2 linked regions of the Homo sapiens genome follow. The protein of the gene in region 1 purifies or fractionates together with the protein of each later gene. This does not show direct contact. Each region holds a gene or a part of one and is shown in the gene's direction. Other genes may lie near its edges. The genes, in order: HNMT and PARVA.

What was found.
Region 2: the proteins of HNMT (region 1) and PARVA fractionate together in Homo sapiens (co-fractionation; one large-scale study listed by BioGRID). This does not show direct contact.

Annotation. Positions count from the first base shown.
Region 1 is NC_000002.12:137,963,015-137,967,446, forward strand, and holds the start of HNMT (histamine N-methyltransferase), read left to right. Parts: upstream 1-1,458; 5' UTR 1,459-1,477; coding exon 1,478-1,614; intron 1,615-4,082; coding exon of another isoform or gene 4,083-4,101; exon of another isoform or gene 4,102-4,337; coding exon of another isoform or gene 4,338-4,372; exon of another isoform or gene 4,373-4,417; intron 4,418-4,432. UniProt on the Homo sapiens protein: Inactivates histamine by N-methylation. Plays an important role in degrading histamine and in regulating the airway response to histamine.
Region 2 is NC_000011.10:12,474,935-12,478,750, forward strand, and holds part of PARVA (alpha-parvin), read left to right. Parts: intron 1-2,912; coding exon 2,913-3,015; intron 3,016-3,816. UniProt on the Homo sapiens protein: Plays a role in sarcomere organization and in smooth muscle cell contraction. Required for normal development of the embryonic cardiovascular system, and for normal septation of the heart outflow tract.

The DNA of each region.
Region 1 (4,432 bases):
ACAGTTCATTAAGGGCAGAGTCATCCATGGCAATCTGCCTGTCCAGATATTACACTTTCCCCCGGGGTAAAAGCACTGGCTCTAAGAATAGTGAGAACAAAACATACTTATAAAAGGGAGTTGGGGGCTGGGAATGGTGGCTCACGCCTGTAATCCCAGCACTTTGGGAGGCCGAGGCGGGTGGATCACTTGAGATCAGGAGTTCGAGATCAGCCTGGCCAACATGGTGAAACCCTGTCTCTACTAAAAGTACAAAAATTAGCCAGGCGTGGTGGCGGGTGCCTGTAATCCCAGTTATTCGGGAGGCTAAGACAGGAGAATCACTTGAGTCCAGGAAGCGGAGGTTGCAGTGAGTGGAGATCGCACCATTGCACTCCAGGCTGGGCGACAGAGCGATACTCTGTCTCAAAAAAAAAAAGAGAGTTGGGAAGTGTTTTGAATGCTTAGAGGGCAGCTTGGGAACTCAATTAGAAGAAGGGACGGTTTAAGCAGACATATTTCTAAGAGACTTATATGAGTTAACTCATTTGATCCTCAGCACTCCTCCATGAGTTGGATGCTATTATTAACAACCCAATATTAGATAAAGGATGACCTTCTTAAAGACCTCTTCCCAGGAAAAAGACTGTGTGTGGGTACTCTGAAGCTTTGGCTCTTCTGGTGGGGACACCACTGGGTTTCCAAAGGCTCATCCAGCCAAGCGAAGTATCTATGACCTCGTCGTGTTCAGCGCGCTTAGGGAAGGATTCTATGGACTGCACTTTTACCCTGGTGTCCTGCATTCTTGCTCCAAGACTTCTCTTACCACTCTCATTCCCCTAAATGCAGCTTCTGACACCTTCTAGCTACGAGTTCTTGGGCTCCTCCTTCGTGACTTCCTTTTAAGATAATTTCTGAGTTACAACAAATCAGCATTTGAAGAAATGCAGCAGATAAGTTGAAAATTCAAGTGCTGAGGAATGTAAAGGCCCAAAACAATCCCGTAGAAAGCACAGAGGCAGATGACAGTCTTCCGTTAAAGATTTCACTGCTGTAGATTTCTGAGAGTGCTGTGTAGCTGTCCTCTTTATCCTGGTGTTTGCCACTTCGAACAGTCACTTTCCCACTTGGAACTTACTTGTGGCTTTGCTGACAAAACAGGAAGTGATTTGAATACAGTTTGTTTTTATGACCTTTCAACCTCAGGAATTTGAAAAGTTTTAGCAGTGGATTTACAGCCTTGCTTAATACTTCTATTTCTTACAAAACAACCGTATAGGGGTTAAAGTATCAGTGCAAAGTCCCGTTCAAATATTGACTCAGTAATGAGCTCTACAAGCCAGCCTTTGTGGCATGTTAAATTCAAAACAAGCTTAGCATTTTTTTTTTTTTTTTTGGATAGAAACTGGTGGGGGTGGGGAAAGAAAGAGGGAACTGGGAAGAGAAGGAGGGGAACTTAAACCTTGCTTCCTGCTCTGTCTTTCTCAGAAAACCAAATATGGCATCTTCCATGAGGAGCTTGTTTTCTGACCACGGGAAATATGTTGAATCTTTCCGGAGGTTTCTCAACCATTCCACGGAACACCAGTGCATGCAGGAATTCATGGACAAGAAGCTGCCAGGCATAATAGGAAGGTAACAAAAGGGACGTTGTTGTCAAAGGGACAAGCCTCAGACTGGCTGTGCGTCAGTGATAGATGGGTCTCGCTCAGCCTCGCAGGCTGGGCACAGGGATAAGGGCGAATTACTGATAGCAGCTCCCCGTCGTCCCCTCCTCGCTGCCCTGCCCTGCCTTTCTCCTGCAGTGCTTTGGTTCCACGTTTGCTTTGAACACTCAAAGGCTCCCATTTGTGTTGTATTTCCAGCTGCATAGAGATAAGCGTTAACCATTTGAAGGCACAAATCCATGTTCATTTGGGAAAAGATAAGATGCTAATCTTCGAACTCAGATTTTTCAGCCCTCCTCCAAATTTTACATCCCAAAAAAGTCCCAAAGGGAGTCTGGTATGCTTTTCATTAGAATCAAATATAAATAATTGCCAAAGTACGATTTGCCCTGAGGATTGAGTGCCTCAGTTCTCATAATATCCATTTAAATTAATTTTCCTTATCCATTGTTATAGTTATCACTCTCTTCCTCAAAATTGTCTTTTTCTTTCAGCTTAATATTAGCAATGTGTTCCTTAAAAAAAGAACCATTTTCCCATTATCAGTGAAACTCACTGGTTCCTATCCTTCTTGCAGAGTTCTTTTTTTTGGGTGATTAATGTGTTCAATTTGTGCCAGAGCTGATAAGCATTATGAGAGTAACAGATTCCACATGCTAAAGATAATCAAATCACCTATCTGGGGGTGATTTGCTGTAACTCATTCTACTTCAGGAAATAATAATGGAAAACTGGGAAGAAATGACTATGGATCCAATTTGCAAACAGCAAAGGAAAGTGGTATTTTATCTTTTGCTGAATTTCTCTATTGCAGGCCTGAAATTCTTTCACCAGGGCAGTACCTATGTCTGACCAGAGCAGGCATTATTAGATGTACATAAAATTTTATTTCCTTTTCTATTTAACATGATTCAGATTTTAAATGTTAGCTTTCAAAAAATAGGATATTATATATTAAAAATTAATATGTAATAGGATAAGGATGCAAACATCAAAGCAAATAGCAAATATAGAGAACTTCTTACCTAGGAACTAATTATAGTTAACCTCTTTGGGTTTCTTTGCTCATTTCTAAAGTTAAAGGTAATGAGTTAATTTCTCAATTCTTTTTCAGTACTAAAAGTATTTGCTCATGTCTGTAGCTTACCAGATCCTTGGTTTTCTTCAGCCATACACAGTTTGGTTTGAAGAGGTACCGTGGATGGAGATAACATAATCGATGATGAATGACCCCTTCCTTATCTTCAAAGTTTAAATCTAACTGGAAATATTATAAAATCTGTGAAAGACTGAAGAATTTTTAAGGGCACACTGTTTGTCTTATAACAGTAGTATATAGTTAGGAATGATCAGATTCAGTGTCATTTATTTTTTTCCTGAAGGTAATGTTTGAAATAAGATTTAGCTGAAGGACTTTTAAAATTGTTACTTAGAGTTGTCTATAAGTTATGAAGTACCAAAATGTGATTAGGATACTCTTTGTGTATGTTAGGGCAGGGTTTGTTGAGTTTGTGGCTCACTGTGCTAATTGAGTGTGGAGCGAGCCTATTAAATTTTTATTAAAGCAAGACATGCCATATTTTAAAACATCAAATGGTTCTAAAGTGTGTGGGGACTATAACAAACCCCACCCACTCCATTCTTGATTCCCACTCTCCGGAAGCAACCACTTTCAGCACTTTGAAATCTTTTAGTTATTTATGGAATTTTCTTTCATAATTCAAAATAACATGTTATTGTTCTATTTCTTCATTTCGCTGTATTAAAATAGCTAAGTAAGCATGCATATTTCCCACCCTATCATGTCACTATATGTAGTCAAAATTTTGGTTAAATAATTTGAGTGTTTATGTTATTTTGCCTATGTACATATTCTTAATAATTGAGCAATATATTCGACTATGCTTATATTTCCTTTTACGTACAACTTTTTGTTCTCCCTAGAGTTGACTATTGCCTTGATTTTGGTTTCTTTTCTTAGTTCTCCATGTACCTATTACTATTTTGATCCCCAAGCAGATATATTAATCTCCTCTCAATATATGCAAACATATCAAGGAATCTGTTTATTTTACCCCAAGGGAACAACTTTTCTGAAGCCCTCTGTTCTTTTTTTCAGTTTAGGAAGATCTGCTTTGGCCTGCTATACAACTATTAAGGAGGGAATTTATTTCACTTTCTGAGAATCATTTTCTTTCTCCATTATTTGATTCCCTGATTCTATATCTCATGCCTTTCTTTTCTTTGTTTCCTCGGTCCTTTGTTTCCTGAACAATTCTTTAAGAACTTTAAGAGTGAACGAGAGGTAAACTTTTTGAGACTTTGTATGTTTAAAAATCCCTTGGTTCTATGTTAATCGTTTGACTGGATATAGAACTCTATACTGAAAATGGTTTTGTATAATAGATCTAAAGGTACTTTTCCACTGTCTTTTAGATACCAGAATTGCTGTTAACAAATAAAATACTGGCCAGATGTGTTGGTTCACGCCTGTAATCCTAGCACTTCGGGAGGCTGAGGCGGGAGGATTACTTGAGCCTAGGAGTTTGAGACCAGCCTGGGCAACATAGCAAGATCCCATCTCTACAAAAAAGTGAAAAAGTTAGCTGAACAAGGCGGCATGCACATGCTACTCCAGACGCTGAAGTGGGAAGATCACTTAAGTCCGAGAGATCGAGGCTTCAGTGAGATATGGCTGAGACACTGCTCTCAGCCTGGATGACAGAGTGAGAACCTGTCTCAAACAAGAGAAAAAAATAAATCAAATGCTACTCAAAATTCTCATC
Region 2 (3,816 bases), on another chromosome or scaffold:
CAGCCTGACCCTGTCTCAAAAAAAAAAAAAAAATAGCACTGGATGTCAGAGTGATTCATTCCCCCATGCAAATCTGAATACACGGTTCCCCTGTGCAAGACCTCTCAGAGTTTCTCATCCACCACAGGTTGCAGTCGACTCCTAAGAGGTGGTGTTTAGACTCCTTGCTCTAGCTGCCTCTTCAACCTGAGATCAGCCACTACCCAGCAACACAAGGATGCCAGAACTGCTGCTCCCAGCAGCCGATGCGTGCTCCCAGCGCTCCCCACCGCCAAAGCCTGGCTAATGCAGTCCACTCTGAGTAGAATGCCTCTCATGCCCCTCATCTGAAAGTCTCAGCACGGCTGCTTGCTCCAGGAAGCTTGCTCTAAACTCTAGTGCCATGGCTCAACCACTCCACGGCTGCTATAACCCTATCCTTAGTTCTGTTGTCGTCTCCACGTAATATTATAGCTTCTCATGCACTTCTCTGTCTCCTTTACTAAATGGTGAGCTTCTTGGGGTTAGAGACTGTCTTTTTTTTCTATCATTGTACCCCAAGGACCTAGCACAGAATGTCACATATAGCAGGTATTTAATAAACATTAGAGGATGGAAGGAGGAAAGGAAGGGTGGGTGGATGAATGGGTAGGAATTTCAAAGTCAGCCAGGAGTATTCAGAAGTAAAATCAAACCCATGTGAGGGTTGGGCCATCTCACTAGGGACTGGAGGACTGAGGGCAGTCATCTCAGAGGAGATGTGTAAATGTCCCTTCTGTCTGCTGAAGGGAGTCTGTGCCCTGACCCCAGAGTTTAAGAGAAAGGAGGCAGCCTTGGCTAGGCCGCCATGCAGCCCCTTGCTCCCCTGGATCACAACCGGAGCCTCACAGGCAGCTGGGCTGTGCATGTTGGGTATCTGGCCTTTCCTGATGCAGTCTGTGCTGCATCCATAGATGACTGCCCCTGCCCAGTGAGACCCTGAGCCCTCACCTTTCTGTGCAGGAAGAAGATGGAACAGTTGAGGTGCAGGCTGTGCCTGCCGCTGCACACTCTCCGGGGTGCTGGGCCTGTGTGGGCAAGGGTAGGGGGAAAGGGGCTAGCCCTGGGCTTGCTCCTATCAGAGGGCGCTCACCATGCTAGAATGGGTATGCTACTACTTGCTCAGGAGACCTCTAAGGGTAAGGACGGTCAGAATGGGCTCCAAATGGTTTAGGCTTCAATGTTGATCTCCCAGACCTAGACCTGCACTCGGGCCCTGTTTGAGAGAGTGAAGGATTGGAGATGCACATAGGCCTGAGCCCTGGGGTGCTGACCAAAGGCACAGCTACCTCCGTACTTCCAGAGGGAGGTTCGATTTTCTAGATCTAGGCTGCTTTGACCACCTTGAAATCCTACTCTTTCTGGTCAACTCCTAGTTTAAGAGTCTTCTTAGGAGCTGGGCACAGTGGCATGTACCTGTAATGCCAGCTACTTTCAGATGAAGGTTTGAGGCCAGAAGTTCGAGGCTATAGTGCACTATGATTGCACCTGTGAATAGCCACTGCATTCCAGCCTGGGCAACATAGCAAGACCCTGCCTCAAAAGGAAAAAAAAAAAAGTCTCCTCAAACACAAGGCTTTCTGGAAGCCTCCCCTCATTCCTGATCTCTCCTGCCCACTCCCAGCCTGTTGGGGCCTCTTCTCTACTCTCTCATAGCACCATGTCCTCCCCACCCCAGGATTTGAACTCTTTATGTTATAATCCTTTGGTTGACCGGTTTTCTGCCCCCATAAGCCTCTCCAGGACAGAGGCTGGGTCTTACTCTACTGGATACAGTGCAGTGCCTGGTATACAGTAGGTATTACAGTTGCCATCCTCTTGCCTTGGGACAGCAGAACAAAAGCCTCCAGACTCCAACATCAGCCCACCCAGGGATGGCAACGCTGTCTGGCTATTGCTGTGTTATAAAGGCAGCATACTTATGCTAAGGCAAAGACGTCCAACACAAAGGACGATGTCCACTTATAAGAAATTGGAGAAATGTCAAAACTGTAGTGGTTCCCCCAGGCCTGTGGTCAGGGATGAGGATTGAGTACAAAGGGACCTACGGAAGCATCCTACTGGGGAGGGAACTGTTCTGTATCTCGATTGTGGTGGGGATTAAACTACTGTGCACAATGACCAAGACATATCACTGTATACTTAACTTTTTTTTTTTTTTTAGATAGAGTCTCACTCTGTTGCCCAGGCTGGAGTGCAGTGGCACGATCTCGGCTTACTGCAGCCTTGACCTCCCGGTTCAAGCAATTCTCCTACCTCAGCCACCCAAGTAGCTGGGATTACAGGCACCTATCACCACGCCTGACTAATCTTTGTAGTTTTAGTAGAGACGGGGTTTCACCATGTTGGCCAGGCTGGTCTCAAACTCCTGACCTCAAGTGATCTGCCCGCCTCGACCTCCCAAAGTGTTGGGATTACAGGTGTGAACCACCACGCCCAGCCTAAAATTTTTTTTATGGCCGTACACTGTGAGTGTTGCTTGCCATTAGAGTAAGGAATAATAGGGGACATAGATATTAACAGGGACATGGCACTAGCAGGATATACATCTGAAAATTAAGAAGGCCAGTAGGGCTCACACTTACAGCTACCTGTGCACACACTGGGTTATGTGGATAGTTCTCCTGCTTTTAAAATCTGAAGTTCAAAGCAGGGCACAATGGAACACTCCCATAGTCTCAGCTATGCAGGAGGTTGAGGCAGGAAGATCACTTGAGCCCAGGAGTTTAAGTCCAGCCTAGGCAACATAGTGAGACCCCATCTCAAATAAAATGAAACTTAAAATCTAAAGTTAATTTGGATTTTAATTGTTTAGGATAAGAAAGCTGGTCTGTAAGAAAATACCCCATAACTCTTTTCTTACTATTGCACATTCCCTTTCTCTCTCTCTGTAGGTATTAATTGACTGGATTAATGATGTGTTGGTTGGAGAAAGAATCATTGTGAAAGACCTAGCTGAAGATTTGTATGATGGACAAGTCCTGCAGAAGCTTTTCGGTAGGAGAGTTGAGTGCTGCAATGGATGTGTGTTTAATTGCAGGTGGTTGGATCACCTACTTGTAGCTAGAAGGAGTTATTCTCAGTTTACAGTGGCTTACCTGGAAATGGATTACAAATGTGTGGAGCATGGAATAACAGCTCAGTGAAGGCTTTAGATGTCCTCTTGGAATGTTTCATATGAATGAATTGTAGAGGGAGTCTCCATGACTAGGTGGGCCTGCTCCTTCTAGCAGCCAAGAATCATCAGCTAGATGAAAAGACCCCACTGTATATTAATAACTAGAAAGCACGCCTCCGCCTCTCCAGAAAAGCATGCCTGTGTGGCCTCTGTCGGTATATTTACATGCATGGGCCTGAGTATGCATTTTTAGACCTCTGTCACCTTCAGATGCATGTGTGTGTGTTCCTCTGTCATCTGTGGACTTGTGTGTGTGTGTATTCCTCCCTGGGTCACTTTGCAGCTGTTCATGTGAAAATGTAAGGACAATGGGGAGAGAAAGGAGAATTCAGGGGTAATCTTAGTGTTGAAAGGACAAATTTTAGCTTGAATGGAGTTAAGGTGTCCCCCACTGCTCCTAATCTAACTGTGGCCCAAACCGTCCCCTCAGATTCTCGACTTCAATCCTTAGCTGCCCTCTGGGCACCTCTACCTGAATCTGCTTTAGACTGAATTCATCCACTTTTCTAAAGCTGTTTCATCCCCTCTGAGTTCATAGAATCCTCTCCCTTCCTCCTCTGCCCCCATGTATACAGGGATCAGCAAGACCCATTTCTACCTCTCCTGAATACATCCTCTGC